Linked DNA regions of Homo sapiens. The protein of the gene in region 1 purifies or fractionates together with the protein of each later gene. This does not show direct contact. Each region holds a gene or a part of one and is shown in the gene's direction. Other genes may lie near its edges.

Region 1 (10,514 bases):
GTTTGCTTAAAAGGAAAAAAAATAAAGAATAAAAAAAGAAATCAACTAAATGAAGGAGCTAGTATGAGTCATCATTAGAAGAATTCATTTGAGTCCAAAAGTGAAATGCAAGGAGGAGCTGAGATTGAAATTAATCTGTATCCAACTTCATCCCACCTCACATGTCACCATTGCCAGATGTACAACTGAGAGAAGCACTTGGTTACTTGACAACTCACACACCATCAGTGCCAGAGCCAGACCTTCAGGCTTTCAAGCTGTGCAACTGTGGACAGGTTTCTTTTTTCTGCAAGTAAGTTGCCTCCACTATAATTTTGGAAATGTAATAGCTTATATCTTATAATTTTGTGACAAGGACGTGATTATGATAAATTGTGTTTTGCAGGTTTGGACATACAAACCGAAAACTATTGCTACCATTTTTTGTTACCACTATTCTCATTAGCTACAGAAGATTTTGCAACTTGCAGGACCTCCCTGTTTCTAAATAGAATGAACTCACTGTTGGTTTGGTGGCTGGATTTTCATGGAACATTCTATTCTATGAAGTTAAGTGAATGTTTGTGTGATCAATAATAAAAAGTGGTTTGTTTGCTGAATGAATGAGCCAAGAAAAAGAAAGGGCTTAGGAAAGAATGTGCTCAAGGCTCTTTTGGCCTTCTGTAAATCTTTGGCTTTACAGAAGCAGGTAGCTCAGAATTGAGGTGCTTGGAAAGTGTAATTTTGATTTCAAGCTTAGGTGATTTAAGTTTTTTTCATTGTGGTACGAAAATGTAAAAAGTGCCATTTTAAGCATTTCTTAGTGTGCACCTTAGTGGTATTAAGTACATTCATGAGAGAGATTTGTTGTGCAACCAATCTCTAGAAACTTTCTCTTAAAAACCTGAAACTCTCTATCACTAAATGATAACTCTCAATATCTTTTTCCTGGAAACCACTATTCTAATTTCTGTTTCTATGAATCTGGCTACTGTAAATACCATGCATAAGTGGAATCATACTATGTTTGTTTTTGTGACTGGATTATTTCATATAGCATAATGTACTCTAGTTCATCTATATAGAATTCTACAGCCTGTGTCTGAATCTTCTTCCCTTTTGAGTCTGAATAAGATTCTATTCCATGAATGCACAGATTTGCTTCATCCATTTATCTGGGGATGAACAATGGATTGGATCCCCTTCCTGATGGATGTGAATAGTGTCCTTAAAGACATGCGTATGCAATATCTCTACAAGATCCTGATTTCAGTTTTTGTGGATGTATCCTCAAAGGAGAAATTCCTTCATCCTATGATATTTTCTATTTTAATTTGAGAGGCCCCCATACTCTTCCATGGCAGCTGCAGATTTTACATTCCCACCAAATGTGCACAAGAATTGCTACCTCTGTACATCCTTGTTACAATATTATATTCTAATTTATTAGTTTGCTTGTTGGTCTGTTTTATAATAGCACCCTAAGGGGTATGAAAAGTCTATGTTATTTTGACCTGAGATTTGAAAACCAAAAAAATCAGTGGGGTAGCAAAATCTGAAGGTGTCTCACCTCTCACACCCATTCTGCTGTCATAAGCCATAGAGGAAAGTGGAAGCTCCCCTCCATTTGGCCCATCCTGTTCTCCAGCCACAAACCCATCCCTGTTTTACCATGTGCACCTGTCTGTTTCAGGTTCACCTGGCTATCTGGTGTCCCTCACAAGCCACTTGGTTTATACATTGTCGATTTCTCTCATGTTGTTCCCTGGGCTTCTTCCACACTTTGTGTGTGTGTGTGTGTGTACGTGTATGTGTGTATGTGTGCATTTGCATGTATGTGTGTGTCTGTGTGCATGTGTGTATGTGTGTGTGTTTGTGTGTGTCTGTGTGTGTATGTGTGTATGTTTTGTGTGTGTCTGTGTGTGTATGTGTGGCTGTGTGTATGTGTATCTGTGTGTGTGTATTTGTGTGTATGTGTGTGTCTGTGTGTATGTGTGCATATGTGTGTGTCTGTGTGTGTGTGTGTTGTGTGTGGGTGTATGTGTGTGTGTGTGTGTGTGTGAATCAAATCCGATGTGTCCCTGAGCGGCACTCAGATATGCTCCTTTATATTCCCAGCAACACGTCTCAGTGCCTTCACCCAGAACGTTCCATGCCTCCCCCTGTTTCCCTGGAGCACTCTGCTCATGGCTGGGGAAGGGCAGAGGAGTTGTCCCCATGGGCTGCTTTGCTGCTGGGACCCTGGGAACTCAGAAGCTCTGAACCTCCTAATTAGAAGAGAAACTAAACAGGAGCTCCTATTAGTCAATATAGAGCTTGGTGAGTTGATATTAAATTTCCCTGAAATTGTTTTAGAAGTCTTGGCTTCCACTAGAAGATTAGGAGTTGGAGTGGTTGATGCGGCAAAATCCTCGTTTCACTGTTCTCTCTAGGGATGTGGAAAACCGATGAGTTTCTTTCACAGTCACCACCACACTACTCATCTTTCACCCTCAACTGCCCACAGGGAAGCCTGGCACCATGAGCATTCTTTTACACTGAACATGAATGTCACCCATTTAGCAGTTTGTTGATTCATAATTTTATGATGTATTTGTTAAAAGATTGTTTGCTGATCTTCTTCTCCATGCCAGCCGCTGTGCTGAGCCAAGATGAGCAAAAGCAGATACTGGCCCTGTGATTATGGAGCTAACAGTCCAGGAAAACTTGTATCCATGAACTGATTACACATTTGTAAAATAACAGCCTTGGAATTGCTGCAAATGAGAGGTGCATGGTTCCAGCAGTGTCTGTAAAGGGCAACACTGACCAAAGCATCGGGGTCAGGCAACAATGCCCGTGGGTGGAAAGAATGAACTGAAATATTGCATGAACTCGGTAAGGAGGAGGGACCCATTAAAAATATCAATGATGAAAACTAAAAAACCCTGTGCAGGTGTTAAGGGCAATAGGAATGATAAAAGTACAAGCAAACAGTCCTCTCTCAGAGATACACATCCTCCCCGGTGGACCATAGAGCTGACAAGGTGAATGCCAAGCCTGTGCCAGGACAAGCTCTGGTCCACAGTTAGGATGAATGCCTCACAGACCTGTCTGCTGTGAAAGACGTCTCAGTCCTGAAGCCCAAGTCCATGGGTCTGTAGACTCAGAGATCATGAACTGGATTTCTTTTTCCATTTATGTCAGAGAGAAATGGTGTATCTAGGTGTCCATGTAGTTCTGAAAGTAGGTGATTTAGTGGATTTTGGCTGTGCTCTAAACTAGGAACTACTGGCAAACCATGACATATATGACAAGTGGGACAAGATAATGGGAGTTAGAATTTATTGAGAACTACTATGTACCAGAACTTAGTTAACTTTAAACACACACACCCCCATGAACACACTCATTTGATCATCTATGAACCCAATGATGTAGGCACAATTACTAGCCTACTTTGACAAATAGGAAAACTGAGGTTACATAAGCTGAATAATTTTCTTAAGGTCCAAGAGCCCACAAATGAGGCTGTATCTGTGAGCCTTGTATCTGTGAGCCTCACCACTGGCCCTCCCACTCCTTGGTGGTGGCGGAAGAGCTGGCTCAGGGATTTCCTCATGATCCTGTGTGATGGAAGTGACAGCCACTGTTGCCCTCAGCTGGGGCTCAAACAAACCTGCCAAGTTGTCTCTGATGACACAGCCCATAAGGTCCCCTCTTTACATACATGTCTTTCTGTGTGGTTTTCAGCCCTCCTGCCCATCAGAAACACCAGAGCAGTTTAAACAGTGTAGGAATCAGGGAGTCAACCCAACGCTACTGAATCAAAATCCCCAGAGAGAGAAACCTGGGGAGTCAGTATATTTTAAAAGCTCCAAGTGATTCGATTGCGCAGCTGCGAATGGAAAGCTCGGGCCTAGGCTGTGAATCCTCTCAAAAGTAAGTTCATTTAAGAGAGAAATTTCTTGATGTGTTGCTGGATTCGGTTTGCCAGTATTTTATTGGGGATTTTTGCATCGATGTTCATCAGGGATATTGGTCTATAATTCTCTTTTTTTGTTGTGTCTCTGCCAGTCTTTGGTATCAGGATGGTGCTGGCCTCATAAATTGAGTTAGGGAGGATTCCCTCTTTTTCTATTGATTAGAATAGTTTCAGAAGGAATGGTACCAGCTCCTCCTTGGACCTCTGGTAGAATTCGGCTGTGAATCCATCTGGTCCTGGACTTTTTTTGGTTGGTAGGCTATTAATTATTGCCTCAATTTCAGAGCCTGTTATTGGTCTATTCAGAGATTCAACTTCTTCCTGGTTTAGTCTTGGGAGGGTGTATGTGTCGAGGAATTTATCCATTTCTTCTAGATTTTCTAGTTTATTTGCATAGAGGTGTTTATAGTATTCTCTGACGGTAGTTTGTATTTCTATGGGATCGGTGGTGATATCCCCTTTATCATTTTTTATTGTATCTATTTGATTCTTCTCTCTTTTTTTCTTTATTAGTCTTGCTAGTGGTCTATCAATTTTGTTGCTCTTTTCAAAAAACCAGCTCCTGGATTCGTTGATTTTTTGAAGGGTTTTTTGTGTCTCTATCTCCTTCAGTTCTGCTCTGATCTTAGTTATTCAATGCCTTCTGCTAGCTTTTGAATATGTTTGCTCTTGCTTCTCTAGTTCTTTTAATTGTGATGTTAGGGTGTCAATTTTAGATTTTTCCTGCTTTCTCTTGTGGGCATTAAACTTATCCACCATGATCAATTGGGCTTCATCCCTGGGATGCAAGGTTGGTTCAACATACGTAAATCAATAAATGTAATCCAGCATATAAACAGAACCAATGAAAAAATCACATGATTATGTAAACTAGTTCAACCATTGTGGAAGTCAGTGTGGCGATTCCTCAGGGACCTTGAACTAGAAATACCATTTGACCCAGCGATCCCATTACTGGGTATATACCCAAAGGATTATAAATCATGCTGCTATAAAGACGCATGCACACGTATGTTTATTGCAGCACTATTCACAATAGCAAAGTCTTGGAACCAACCCAAATGTCCAACAATGATAGACTGGATTAAAAAAATGTGGCACATATACACCACGGAATACTATGCAGCCATAAAAAATGATGAGTTCATGTCCTTTGTAGGGACATGGATGAAGCTGGAAACCATCATTCTCAGCAAACTATCGCAAGGACAAAAAAACAAACACCGCGTGTTCTCACTCATAGGTGGGAATTGAACAATGAGAACACATGGACACAGGAAGGGGAACAGCACACACCAGGGACTGTTGTGGGGTGGGGGGAGGGGGGAGGGATAGCATTAGGAGATATACCTAATGTTAAATGATGAGTTAATTGGTGCAGCACACCAACATGGCACATGTATACATATGTAGCTAACCTGCACGTTGTGCACACGTACCCTAAAACTTAAAGTATAATAACAAAAAAGAGAGAGAAATTTCTAGTGATTGATTTCCTGCTCACACCACACAAAGGCATCACAGCAGGAGGGCAGGAGGGTGTGTATTGCTTTGTCTGGGTGCTTCCTTCCCTTTCTATTAAAAATGGGATTGGCTCAGGCTGCACAGCTAGATTTGAAGTGGAAAACTTGAGCCTAGAGGTTGGGGGGAAGTGACCACTCACCCTGATCATCTGTCTCTTCTTTTCCATCTTCTTCCCCTCCTGGAGCCCCAGAGCAAAGAACTCTCAGTACCTGTCCGATGCATGATTGGCTCTGGACACTCCAAAAGCTACTTGGAAAAAGTTAGGCTATGTAATCATCAGGTCAACCCATCAACATGTGGGTGGCTACACATCACAGAAAGCTTGCTCCTCGTAGAGAGAAAATGTGAGTCTTGGCCATATTTATAGCTGCACTCATAAACAAGACTCAGGTTTGGGAGTGAGACAGGCTAGAGAACAGGTGCAGCAGTTGCTTTTCCCCAGGAAATCCTCCAAAGGTAAGATGCATTGAACTAGGTTTTAGGTACCTATGCAGTGAACATGGTGGTGATGGGAGGGGCTGAGGGGAATAGGTCTTGTTTAGACTTGCTCAATGTGCAACTGAAACAAGCCTACTGGTTGTCAGACATGCAGGGGGATCAAAGCAGGGTTTCCTTATGTCCCTGCTCCCCCATAACCAGAACACAGCCTTCCAGCTTCCTGTGCCTTCCAAAGTCAGAATTTACCTGTGCCCTTGAACTGATACAAAGAAAAAAAATAATCAGCAAAACTCAGAAGGAAACAGAATCCCAGGAATATTTCCAGAGGTGCCTGAACATTCACCTGGAACACAGAGCAGAGTTCCTGCAGGGCTACCCTCCTGTGCTCTGCCCCAGTCAGAGTGCAGGGAGGCGTGGGGAGGTGACACAGATGGATGGCAACAGCCCTGGGAAGGAGAGGTGGGCTGGGAGCCAGGCCTCATGACCAGTACCAGCTAGACTCCCTAGGTACAAATAGCCCTGGGCTCTGCAGCTCCACAGGCTCCTGGGGTGGAGTCCAAATCACTCATTGTTTGTGAAAGCTGAGCTCACAGCAAAACAAGCCACCATGAAGCTGTCGGTGTGTCTCCTGCTGGTCACGCTGGCCCTCTGCTGCTACCAGGGTGAGTACATCAGTCATGAGTCTAGCTCCAGCCCCTGGGAAGCACCCTCTTCCAAGCACGAGGTCACCTATTCAGGCTGGGGTTAGGATCTGCACAAAACCAAAATTCCAAACCTTTTTCTGTGCTTGTTGAACAAGCCCCTCATCAAGTTCAGAGCTATTTCTTCTACTCCCCAGCACCTACGAAGTTTTATTGAAAATCAGTGCAGGCAAATATTAGGAATTCTTCTGCCTGAGCTTCACTCCTGGGTGGGATCTGTGTCAGATGATGTAATGTGAGGTCTGGGGTGAATCTGGGATCCGCCACTTCCCAGCCCTTTGACCTTGGGCACAATGCTCACCCTCCCTGAGCCTCCTCCTATCACTGGTAGTTAGCGCTTCTGCCAGGAGAGGCTATGAGAATGGAGTAAGAAAGATTAATACTGTCAAAAGAGTCTAGCTGTGGGCTAAGCATGGCGGCTCATGCCTGTAATCCTAGCACTTTGGAAGGTCAAGGAGAGTGAATTGCTTGAGCTCAGGAGTTTGAGTCCGGCCTAGGCAACGTGGCGAAACTCCAGCTTTACCAAAAGAAATATGAAAAATCAGCTGGACGTGGTGACATGCACCAGTAGTCTCAGCTACTTAGGGGGCTGAGATGGGGATATCGCTTGAGCCCAGGAGGTAGAGGCTGCAGTGAGCCATGATTGAGCTACTGAATTCCAGCCTGGGTGACAAAGGGAAAAAAAAGAGTTTGGCTGTTGATATGAAGTGCTTTCCTTTATTGTGAGAGCTTGAGGAAGTCACACCTGAAGGGTCTGGCATTGTCATCAGCACAACAAATGTATGTGAACATATAACCCAGGGGATCCTGTCTGGTCTAACGTCAGGGAGCCAAAGAGAAAAATCGACTTTCCTAACATCAACTATATTTTTATTCTTTTGCTGCAGCCAATGCCGAGTTCTGCCCAGCTCTTGTTTCTGAGCTGTTAGACTTCTTCTTCATTAGTGAACCTCTGTTCAAGTTAAGTCTTGCCAAATTTGATGCCCCTCCGGAAGCTGTTGCAGCCAAGTTAGGAGTGAAGAGATGCACGGATCAGATGTCCCTTCAGAAACGAAGCCTCATTGCGGAAGTCCTGGTAACTTCTTTCTCCTTTATTTGTTAAGGCTTCTGGTCAGCTGCACAGTATGAAGTGAGGTCAGCTTGCTGCTCTGTTGGGGACACAGGTGGTGGGGCAGCTGCCTTGCTGGTCACCTCTTGAGAAGGTCACCTGGGGCCACAGGGTGGGTGCCACCATTTCACCTGCAGAATTCAACTCAGCTGCACACAGCCTCCTGCATGTTCCTCCTTCTCATGTCACCTGCCTGGATGCCATGTCCCCAGAGTGTGCTGAGGACATGGGGAGTGAGCCTGGGCCCAGGCAGAAATGGTAAAGGGCCAAGCATGGCCGCCTCGCTGCTGGGAGCTTTCCTGAGACCAAACTGCCCTCATGTAATGGACACAGTCACTGTGGAATGTCCTGGGGAGCATGGGAGCCTTGAACAGGGAGAGGAAGGCAGGGAGGGACATAGAGCAGGGGCTCCTGCAGATGTAGCACTGGCAGGCTGGACTTCTCTGCAGCTTCTGCAGAGCCAGGAAGGAGCCCCTCCCAGCTCCTGAGACCCCATACTCCCCTCCACACCCACGACACTCTCCTGACCATGGCCAGTCGTCCAAGACCCTAGCTAGTCTACCTCCTGCAGTGCCATGGAAGCGGGATGTTCTCACTCTGTCTTTCTCAAGAAATCAGAGGTTTTCCAGGGGCCTCTCTGCCTGGCTGCCTCTGAGTTGCTGTCCTGAGGTTTAGCTGCAAATGCTCATGGAAGCTGCAGGCTCGGGACTGAGAGGTGCTCGGGCCCTGAGGCAGAATTCCCACATGGGGAGGCTGGAGTCTCCTGGAAGCCAAGCTTCCCAGAAGCCCTCTCAGCCCTGACCAGCCTCTCAGTCCTGGGTCCCTCACTGCAGGAACCAGGAGACTCCAAGCCCTGGGACAGCCCAGGCAATAACCTCTTGCTGCTCTCTCCAACCCTCGTCACTTGCTTCCATGAGGATCCTGGGCCTCATTCCCGGATCACCCCAGGGCTATTGGCCTGGCAAGAAAAGGCTGCTCCATCACCGGCATGGGTGCTGTGAGGCCACCAGGTCTAGGCCTCAGTTTCCCAAACTGAGTTGTTGCCTCTGCCCTTCCAATTGCCTTTGGGGGCAGAATCCCACTGGCCTCTTGGATGTGAGCCTGTCACCTCCAGCAGCAGCATGACTGACCCCACCTTCTTTTTTCTTTTCCTATTTTAGGTGAAAATATTGAAGAAATGTAGTGTGTGACATGTAAAAACTTTCATCCTGGTTTCCACTGTCTTTCAATGACACCCTGATCTTCACTGCAGAATGTAAAGGTTTCAACGTCTTGCTTTAATAAATCACTTGCTCTCCACGTCTCCACTGGTCTTGTTATAATCCTGCAGTCTCGAGCCTTGAGTACAGGGTGGTTTCCATAGTGGAGTGGCCTTTTGCTGTGGGTGATAATTAACTCCAGAGAACCAGCATCCTGTTACTAATGGGGCCTGAGTCCAGGTGTCACAGAGGAGAATATTTGGTAGGAATTATCCTGCATTCCTTACAGATTTCCCATCTTGCAGCCGTGAATAAAAACCATGGTAACAAGGACACAGGAATTGAAATGTTCCACTGGTCTTACACTGAGAGAACCCCCAGCCTGAATGGGTATCCAGGCCGAGGGTTCCCACCTATCAGTGACTTTACTCTGATGTCCCCTCAGACCCACAGTCAGCCTGCTTGGTGCTCTCTCTGCACTATGCTTTCTGTCCTCCGTCATGTCCAGTATACTTCATTTTCCACTTATCACAATTTGGGGTCCTCTTTAGGTTTCAACCTGGAGTTCACATTGTTTTACTCCCCACGCTCAGAGCACTCCTCAGCGTCTGCATCACTCACCAGCACCTGAGGTGAATGCTTCCTTCCTCAAGCTCTCCCAAGAGCTCCAGAGACCAGCACCCCCTGACAACTGGACAGCTCCCAGTGCGCACTCCACAGTCATTTCAGGAGCAGGATGTAAAACTGAGCACAGGGTCTGCCCCCAGCCTGCTCTCCCTTCCATGAGCCCATCCAGGCTAAGGCACCCACCCAGCAAGCACCCTGACCAGGACACAGAGAGACACCACAGTTTCCCTGCTTGGTGTCCTGTGACTACTGGAACAAAAATCTGCAAACTTCATGGCTTAAAACGACTGATTCTCAGGCATCTCTGGGGGTCAGAAGTCCAACATTAGTATCACTGTGAAGACGTTAGGGGGCAGCAGGGCTCCGCTCCCTCTGGGGACTCTTGGGGGGAATTCACTAAGGGTTGCTTCTGGCTTCTGGGCTAATAATTGTCCTGGTCCTGTGGCCACATCACTCCAACCTCTGCCTCCATGATATGTTCCCTTCTTTTCTTTCTACATCAACCCCACCCACCTTGGCTTTTTTTTTTTTTTTTTTTTGAGAAGGAGTCTCGCTCTGTCGCCCAGGCTGGAGTGCAGTGGCACCATTTCGGCTCACTGCAAGCTCCACCTCCCGGGTTCACGCTGTTCTCCTGCCTCAGCCTCCCGAGTAGCTGGGACTACAGGCGCCCGCCACCATGCTCGGCTAATTTTTTGTATTTTTAGTAGAGATGGGGTTTCACCGTGTTAGCCAGGATGGTCTTGATCTCCTGACCTCGTGATCCACCCACCTCGGCCTCCCAAAGTGCTGGGATTACAGACGTGAGCCACCACCCTGACTTTTAATCACAAAATACACAGGTTTGGTTTTGGGACCCTGCAGATTATTCAGAATAACACCCCATCTCATTATGTTTGATCGTGTCTGCCAAGTGCTTTTTTTGTCATATAATGGAACATTCACAGATTTCAGGAACTAGGATGTGGGTATCTTTC
Region 2 (9,599 bases), on another chromosome or scaffold:
ACTGCAGCCCTGACCTCCTGTGGGTCCCTTTGAAAGGACAGGCGCCCCACTGGTAAGGCCTCTTAGTAATTCCCTGGGAAGTATTCCTTGGAACCCATCAGGATTCCTGGAGCAGTTTTGGATGGATCCCAGCCTTCAAGATTGATGGGAGGAGGCTCTTGGCACTTATCCTGCTGCGAACCGTCCAGCTGAGGATTTCAGAGAACTCTTGGGGCCCTCCACGCATGTCTTGATTTTTCAGAATCAGCCAGGGCTGCTCTTAAAAATGGGCTGAACAAATCGATCTGATTTGAGGGGCTCTAGGGAAAGCCCCTAGCTCATTAAGAAGACCTCTTGGGGAGTCTCCCTTTCAATCTTAAATATTTCCTAGTGTCACACAGTAAAACACAAATGTCTTTTGCTCGTTTTCAGTTGACAGCCTCTGCAGTGATACCACTGTAAAGCCACATTCGCAGTCAGTGTTATCTAAACCCAGCCAAATGACTGCTGTTTTCCTGGCCTGTCTAGTGTAACCTAAGATCCCTTTAAAGGACAAGAGCCTTCCTAGAACTGCTGCATGATGGAGTGGTGCTGTTTGAGCACCACTGAGTTAACAAATTATCTGGGATTATGATAGTCCATTGAGAACAAAGTTGTTGGTAAACGGGGCACTAGTTGATCCCCCCAGGGAACTGACAGTAGAGTGGAGGGAGAAAGTTTAAAGGAAAGTGATAAAAATAAACTTTCTTCTTGGCAGGTTTGCCCCTCGATAGTGCTGGATGTTAGGAAAATAATCATTCTCCTTGACTTCTTCTGTGAGTAAATAAAAAATGGCAGGGATCCAGTTACTTTTCTGTATACACTAAGCTTTTGTTGTAGACCAAACTGCATCCTGTTCCTGTGACGTGTGTGTGTGTGTGTGCGCGCGCGTGTGTGTGTGTGTGTGTGTGTGTGTGTGTGTGTTGGAAATGTTGGCATATTTTTTGAGTACTTACTGGGTATCTGCCTTTTTCTCTTTTAGAAACACACTTAAGTCTCCCAGTTACTTGGGGAAGAAAATAATATTCCTCCTTTAGCAATCACTGAGCTTCAAGGATAAAAAGCACCTTGTATGGGATCACAAAGACAGCAAGTGACAGAAATATGATTAAGAAAAGTCTATATGGGGCCAGGCACAGTGGCTCATGCCTGTAATCCCAGCATTTTGGGAGGATCACCTGAGGTCAAGAGTTCAAGGCCAGCATGGCCAACATGGCAAAACCCCATCTCTACTAAAAATATAAAGATTAGCTGGGCGTGGTGGTGGGCACCTGTAATCCTAGATACTTGGGAGGCTGAGGCGGGCATTGAGAATATAAAAGAGAGTCTATAGGAAATTCTGAGCGTTCTTTAAGTCAAAGTTTAGAGCCTAGACTCCCCGTTTCCTCCAGGTAATTTTTTTATTAGTGGTCTTGTTGCACTTTTCTCTCTATGGGCCTTTGTCGGAGCTACCCTGAAAGGTGTCTCTGTGAATTTTAGAGAGCAATGTTTTGCCTCATTTCTCCTAGAAATTATCTGAGTTGCTTACAAAAATTGGTCCAGAGGTAGGTTGTGCTTTGCTAAGTCCATTGCAATGTCTTAGGGTGTGTCTTTATCTAGGAGCAGTCAGAGGGCCCATTATTGGATAAAGATCTATTTCTGGGTGGCCTTTTGTCTCTGGCTTTTGCAAAGAGGAGAACATTTAATTGATGTCTAAAAATGATAATTTGCTGCAGGTTGTTTGCTTCTGTTCTTCCTTCACTTCCCAGCCCTGTCTCCTGCCATGTGCTGGCACTGTGCTAAGCATTCAAAATACAGTAGGGAATAATATGCTTTGGCAAATGGAAATGCCAATAGCTAACTACGGGGTAGTGTTCAATGCTGCAGAATGGAAAATAAAGATTACTACTATAGGAAACAGGAAGAGCACCTGACCCCAGACTTGGAAGATCAAGGAAAACTTCCTGAAGGAAAGGATGTCTAAACTGAGATGTAAAGCTACCCTTTATACTGATTACAGATGTACATTGTAGTTAAAAACAGTCTCCCATTTCTTTGACAGATGAACTATGTCAGTGTTTGAAAAAAATGAAGAGAGGGAAAAAAAGCCAGGTGAAGAACATTCTTGTGTCAAGCAGCTGTCATTCCAATTTGCCATACTTTTGGAATGGCTCTACCTTCTGTCATTTAGAACATACAGCATGAGTTTAATACTGATTGAGCAGCTGTATAACTGAGGCTAATTTTCAGTCAAATTCCTTGCGTTTGAGTGATTCACAGGGATGCTGCTAACCTAATATAGTTTTTCTGTAAATTAGAAAAAGGAAGCCTCTCTGTGCAAACCTATGGCATGGGAGAAGAAAACAGTTCTGTTTTATCTGGATAACACAGCTTTGCACTGGGGCACACAACTTGGGAGCAGAGTGTCTGCCAATTTCAAGTGTCATTGACCCTAGGCGAAGTGTAAATTGTTTAGTTCATTAACTGCGAGCTGTACACACATTAGCCCTGATCATTCAGTCATTAACTATTAAATCAATCAATATTTACTGATTGCCTATGTGTGTTGAACTTTCTTGAATATGGGTTAAACTGCCCATCTAGATGTCTGATAGTGCCCAAGATCTAGAAGGTTAAAACAGTGACTGAGGCCATGAAACTAGCTGGAGAACCTCAATAAGATGAGGGACAGATGCAGTTCATCAGAGGCCTGGTTGGTGAAGGATCAAGTTTGGTGCTACTGCTGGTTGGTGCCCATCCACAAACTGTTACCTGCCTCTGATAAGACAAAAACTACACGATGATGTAAATCAAATATGTCAATAAGCGCACTGTTCACCAAGCACACTGTTAGTTCAACGGAGATTATCATTATTTTTTCATAGCAAAGCTTTTCTGACGAAGGAAGCAAAAGAATACATAGACTTGCATATTGGCATAAGCTCCTTATCTCACTGAGGACCAGTAACAGTTCATAGACCAGCTACTTTGAGTAGCACCAATCTAGGCAACATTGGCCCACATTTGGCCAGATAGGTCATCTTGTATCCTTTCTGCCTTTATACTGTTTTCTTTTCTCTCTTTTCCCCTTATTTTTTCTTTGTTTCCTCTGCCTCCTCATCTTCTTCCTCTTCATCATTTTCCCTTTTCTTCTTCCTTCCCTTATTCCTACTTTACTGTTGCTTTCCCCTTCCATTTGATATTTCTCTCTTAAACAAAAATCACTGTGCATTTTATTCAGCTTTTTGTCTTTTAAAAAGCAAAATAAAGAAAGCCTACGTGTACAAGGAAAGAAATGTAAAATGGAAACATCACTAACTTGGAGAAAATTAAAAGAATTTAATGGTAATTAAAATAAAAATATGCCAATAAATTAGAAAGCCTGGATGAAATGGATTCTTTTTTTTCCAACTTTTATTTTAAGTTTGGGGATACAAGAACAGGTTTATGACATAGGTATATGTGTCATGCTGAAGTTTAGGGTATGAATGATCCCATCACCCAGGTAGTGAGCATAGTACCCAAAAGGTAGTTCTTCAACCCTCACCCCCTTTTTTTTCCTTCCCTCGCTATTAGTCCCCACTGTCTGTTTTCTCATCTTTATGTCCATGTGTACTGTTTAGCTCCTACTTATAAGTGAGAATATGTGGTACTTGGTTTTCTGTTCCTCTGTTAATTCACTTAGGATAATGGCCTCCAGCTGCATCCATGTTGCCGCAAAGGACATGATTTTGTTCTTTGTTATGGCTGTGTAGTATTCCATGGTGTATATGTACCACATTTTCTTTATCCAGTCCACCATTGATGAGCATCTAGGTTGATTTCACATCTTTGTTATTGTGAAGAGTGCTGTGATGAACATAGGAGTGCATGTGTCTTTTTGGTAGAATTATTTATATTCCTTTGCGTATATATCCATTAGTGGGATTACTGAGTTGAACGGTAGTTTTTTAAGTTCTTTGTGAAATCTCCAAACTGCTTTCCACAGTGGCTGAACCAATTTACATTCCTACCAACAGTGTATAAGCATTTCCTTTTCTCTGCAAATCTGTTTTTTTTTTTTTGACTTTTTAATGATAGCCATTCTGATTGGTGTGAGATAGTATCTCAATGTGATTTTGATTTGCATCTTTCTGATGATTAGCAATGTGGAGCATTTTTTCATGTTTGTTGGCTGCTTGTATGTCTTCTTTTGAGAAATATCCGCTCATGCCCTTTGCCTACATTTTTAATAGGGTTATTTGTTTTTTGCTTGTTGAATAATTTAAGTTCATTATAGATTCTGGATATCAGACCTTTGTTGGGTCCATACTTTGCAAATACTTTCTCCTATTCTGTAGATTGTCTATTTACTCTCTTGATAGTTTCTTTTGCTATTCAGAAGCTCTTTAGTTTAATTAGATCCCACTTGTCAATTTTTGTTTCTGTTGCAGTTGATTTGAGGACTTAGTCATAGATTCACTGCCAAAGCCTGTGTCTGGAATGGTATTTGCTAGGTTTTCTTCCTTTTTTCTTCCTTTCTTTTTTTTTTTTTTTTTTTTTTTTTTGAGACAGAGTCTTGCTCTGTCACCAAGGCTGGAGTGCAGTGGCGCTATCTCGGCTCACTGCAACCTCTGCCTCCTGGGTTCAGGCGATTCTCCTGCCCCAGCCTCTCTAGTAGTTGGGATTACAGGCATATGCCCCACCATGCCCAGATAATTTTTTATATTTTTAGTAGAGATGAGGTTTCACTGTGTTAGCCAGGATGGTCTTGATCTCCTGACCTCATGATCCACCCGCTTTGGCCTCCCAAAGTGCTGGGATTACAGGCATGAGCCACTGTGCCCAGCCGATATTTGCTAGGTTTTCTTCTAGGATTTTTTTATAATGTTAGATCTTACATTTAAGCCTTTAATCTATTTTGAGTTAATTTTCATATATGGTGAAAGGTAGGAGTCCCATTTCATTCTTCTGCATACAGCTAGCCAGCTATTCCAACACCATTTATTGAAGAGGTAGTCCTTTCCCCATTGCTTGTTTTTGTTGACATTGTTAAAGATCAGGTGGTTGTAGGTGTGTGACTTTATTTCTGTGTTTTCTAACCTGTTCCGTTTTCTGTGTGTTTGTTTTTGTACCAGTACCATGCTTTTTTGGTTACTGTAGCCTTGTAGTAGAGTTTGAAGTTGGATAATTTGATGCCTTCAATTTTGTTCTTTTTGCTTAGAATTGCTTTGGCTATTGAGGCTCTTTTTTGGTTTTGTTTAGAATTTTTTTTTTTTCTATTTCTGTGAAAAATGATGTAGGTAGTTTGATAGCAATAACATTGAACCTGGATATTGTTTTGGGTAACGTTCTTTTTTTTCTCTTTGAAACAGAGTCTTGTTCTGTCACCCAGGCTGTGTTTTGGGCAGTATTCTTATTTTAATGATATGAAATGAGTTATTTTTAAACAAAGTACAAATTACTAAAACTGATTTTTTATTATACAGGAATTATGAATAAAACATTAGACACAAACATGTTGAAAAAGTTGTTAAAAAGTAACCTCTCCAAGAGTACTGAACTCTCCCCATGGTTTTGCAATTGAATGCTAATGAAAATGTAAAAAAATAAAAATACCGTGCTATTATAACTGTTCCGGCCGGGCGCGGTGGCTCACGCCTGTAATCCCAGCACTTTGGGAGGCCGAGACGGGCGGATCACGAGGTCAGGAGATCGAGACCATCCTGGCTAACACGGTGAAACCCCGTCTCTACTAAAAATACAAAAATTAGCCAGGCATGGTGGCGCGTGCCTGTAGTCCCAGCTACACAGGAGGCTGAGGCAGGAGAATGGCGTGAACCCGGGAGGCGGAGCTTGCAGTGAGTTGAGATCGCGCCACTGCACTCCAGCCTGGGCGACAGAGCGAAACTCCGTCTCAAACAAAAAAAAAATAAAAAAAAAAAAAATAACTGTTCCAAAGTACAGTATAGAGAAAGAAGAAAAAATTCTGTTATTTTTTATAAAACTGGAAAAAATAATACTGATATCAAAACTTGACACAGCATAATAAAAAAGAAAAGCTACAGATTAATTTCACTAATATTGATGTACTTATTGATATGAATAGCATATTAGTAAATAGAACCCAAAAGAATAATTCACAATGATCAAGTTGGGCTCAAATTTTACAGGTAAGTTTAGTATTAGAAAATGGATTAATATAATTGTCATGTTAAAAAGTTAAGAGAAAAAAGTTAGAGGATATTCTTCATAACTACTACAATAATTTAACATTTTATTTCAGATTAATAGCTCAATAAAGTTTACACAGATGGAAATTTACTAAACATGATACATTTATATCAGTATATTTGTGTTTGTCTTCTCTAACAGTCTGTCTAGCCATGTGTCTTCAAAATCAAAGTCATGCCAAAGAAGCATTGCTATTAAAAATAAGAACAAGACAAAGTTTCCAGGATAAATATTCTGGAGATAGTAGCCAAAGTAATAAGAAAAGGGAAAGAAATGAAAAACATAAAATTTGGAAGGTAAGAAGAAAGATATCATCTACAGAAAAAATTAAGGAAATCAATTTTACAAACTTTAAGACTTTGAAAAAATGTTAAACTATTCAAGGTAGGTTACAAAATTAATATAAAAATAAAATTGCTTTACTATAATTAATAAACAACTTGTTTAAAAGTGATTAAGAAAAATCCATTAACAGGAAATAAAACATATATGTATATAATATGTAGAAATAAACTCAAAATGTCAAATTTATATAACTCTTTAAAGTGCTCATGAAGAAATGAAGATGACTGGCTTGAATAAACAAAGAATATATTCTTTTTTGATGTAAAGATGGACTATTGTATAAAAAAGGTCGATCTACCTAAATTGGTCTACTAATTTAACATGATCCCAATTTTGAGGAGTTTTTGGTACCTAGTCAAAAATAATCAGAAAGAAAACTTAAAAGAAAATATTAAAACATATTATAAAGTTTTGATATTTACAATTACTTAATAGTCACACATAAATAGAAAATCGATAGATTCGAAAATAAAATATAGCATTGTTAACCTGTGATCAAAAGGTAAATTATTCTATAAGTGGTATTGGACTAATTGGATAGACATGGAGAATAAAAGTTAAAACTTTTTCATTTACATCAAAATAAGTTTTAGATGATCAAAGATTTCAATTTAAAAATTGAAAATGTAAGAATACTAAAAGAAAATATAGGAAAATGCTATAATTCCAAAGGAGAAAGAGACTTATATGCATGTCATAAACCATAGGAGATAAAAAAGAAAAAAAATAAATATTGGGCAACGTGTTTTATCATATATGATGGAAAAAGAGCCACATATTAAATACAAAAATTTCTCATAAAAAGATGAACACTCCTAGCTGAGTGTGGTGGCTCACGCTTGTAATCCCAGCACTTTGGGAGGCCGAGGAAGTCAGATCACTTGAGGTCAGGAGTTCGAGACCAGCCTGGCCAACATGGCGAAACCCTGTCTCTACTAAAAATACAAAAAACAGTTGGGTATGGTGGTGCATGCCTGTAATCCCAGCTATTTGGGAGGCTGAGGCATGAGAATTGCTTGAACCTGGGAGGTGGAAATTGCAGCGAGCCAAGATTGCACCACTGCACTCCAGCCTGGGTGACAGAGTAAGTGAGATTCCATCACAAAAAACAAACAAACAAACAAAAAACAGATGAACAATCCTATAGAAAAATGACCAAGGATATGCTAGAGAGTTCACCGAACAAAAGACAGCTTAAGTAAATGAAAGATGTGCAGTCATACTTTTAGCCATGGTGATGTTATATGTTGAACTACAATTTTTTCATACATGAAAGAATTTGTAAATATCAGAGCCAGCAAGTTTATGGAAAAATAGACACATATACTTTTGGTGGTATATAAACTGGCATAATCTCTCTGGAGACCAATTTGGCAATATGCATTAATACTTTTTTTTTTCTTTTTGAGACAGTGTCTCCCTCTGTTGTCCAGGCTGGAGTGCAGTGGCACAATCTTGGCTCACTGAAACCTCCACCTTCCAGGTTCAACTAATTCTCCCACCTCAGCTTCCTGAATAGCTGGGATTACAGAAGCGCACCACCACAGCCTGTCTAATTTTTGTATTTTTAGTAGAGATGGGGTGTCACCATATTGGTCAGGCTGGTCTCGAACTCCCAACCTCAGGTGATCTGCCTGTCTTGGCCTCCCAAAGTGCTGGATTACAGGTGTGAGCCCTGTGCCCAACCCATTAATACTTTTTAAAAGGAATAAGCATACTTTATAACCAGCAGTTTAACTTTTAGCAAACTGTCTTAGAGAATATTTGTCCATGACTTTTTTGAGATTTTGATTAAAATTGCTTTGAATCTATAGATTATCTTAAAGACATTCTAACAGAGTACTTTTTTTTTTTTAACCCATGAACATGGTGCACTGCTCTATTTAGGCTTTCTTTCATTTCTGTCAGTAATACACTTTTATATTTTGGTATTCTGAAGAGTATAGAGGCCTTGCATGTCATATTAATTTCTAACTATTTTATGTTTTTGATGTCATTGTAAATAAATTTAAAATTTTTTTCTTTTTATTTATTTTCTGCTATTATATAAGAATACAATTGATTTTTTGCTGACTGATCTTGTCTGTCAGTCTTTCTAAATTATTAGTTCAAGTAGGGTTTTGTTTTTGGTAGATTCCTTAGAATTTTCTGGTAAACAACCCTGTTGATTGTGAATAGAGTCAGTTTACTTCTTCCTTCCCATTCTTTCTGCCTTTTATTTCTTTTTCTTGCCTGATTGCACTGGCTAGGACCTCTAGTACAGTGTTGAGTGGAACTAGTAATAGTTAACATCCCTATTTTATTCTTGATCTTAGGAGAAAAGCATTCAATATTTTACCATTCAGTGTGATACTAGCTATGGAGTTTTCATTGATGCCCTTTATTAGATTGAAGAAGTTCCTTTCTATTTTTAGTTTGCTGAGTTTCTTTAAAATCCTGAATGTGTATTGAATTTTGTGAAATACTTTTTGTCCTTCTATTTAGATTACACGCACACACACACACACTACATATATATATATATAAAATCTCATGCTAAATGATTAGTGGATATTATCTTGATGGTTAGCCTTTTTCTCCCTGAGGGAAGAAACATACTAAACATGCTAAATGATTTAAAAATATTAAACCAATATTACATTCCTGTAATAAGCTCTACTTGGTCATCATTATTATTATTTTTTACATTGTTAAATGCTATTTGATAATATTTTGTGAAAGATTTTTATATCTATGTTCATAAGGGTTATTCTGTGATTTTTATTTTTTGTGATGCTGTCTAGTTTTGATAAAAAGGTTATGTTAGGGCTGGGTGTGGTGGCTCATGCCTGTAATCCCAGCACTTTGGGCAGCTGAGGTGGGCAGATCACTTGAGGCCAGGTGTTCGAGACCAGCCTGGGCAACATGGTGAAACCCCCATCTCTACCAAAAATACAAAAATTAGCCATGTGTGGTGGCATGCGCCTGTAGTCCCAGCTCTTCGGGAGGCTGAGACAGGAGAATTGCTTGAACCCGGTAGGAGGTTGCAGTGAGCCAAGATTGCG

The links.
Region 2: the proteins of SCGB1D2 (region 1) and COL14A1 purify together in Homo sapiens (affinity purification with mass spectrometry; 2 studies listed by BioGRID and IntAct, with this or other methods). This does not show direct contact.

Annotation. Positions count from the first base shown.
Region 1 is NC_000011.10:62,235,796-62,246,309, forward strand, and holds SCGB1D2 (secretoglobin family 1D member 2 precursor), read left to right. Parts: upstream 1-6,443; 5' UTR 6,444-6,512; coding exon 6,513-6,567; intron 6,568-7,493; coding exon 7,494-7,681; intron 7,682-8,874; coding exon 8,875-8,904; 3' UTR 8,905-9,017; downstream 9,018-10,514. UniProt on the Homo sapiens protein: May bind androgens and other steroids, may also bind estramustine, a chemotherapeutic agent used for prostate cancer. May be under transcriptional regulation of steroid hormones.
Region 2 is NC_000008.11:120,127,321-120,136,919, forward strand, and holds part of COL14A1 (collagen alpha-1(XIV) chain isoform 1 precursor), read left to right. Parts: intron 1-9,599. UniProt on the Homo sapiens protein: Plays an adhesive role by integrating collagen bundles. It is probably associated with the surface of interstitial collagen fibrils via COL1.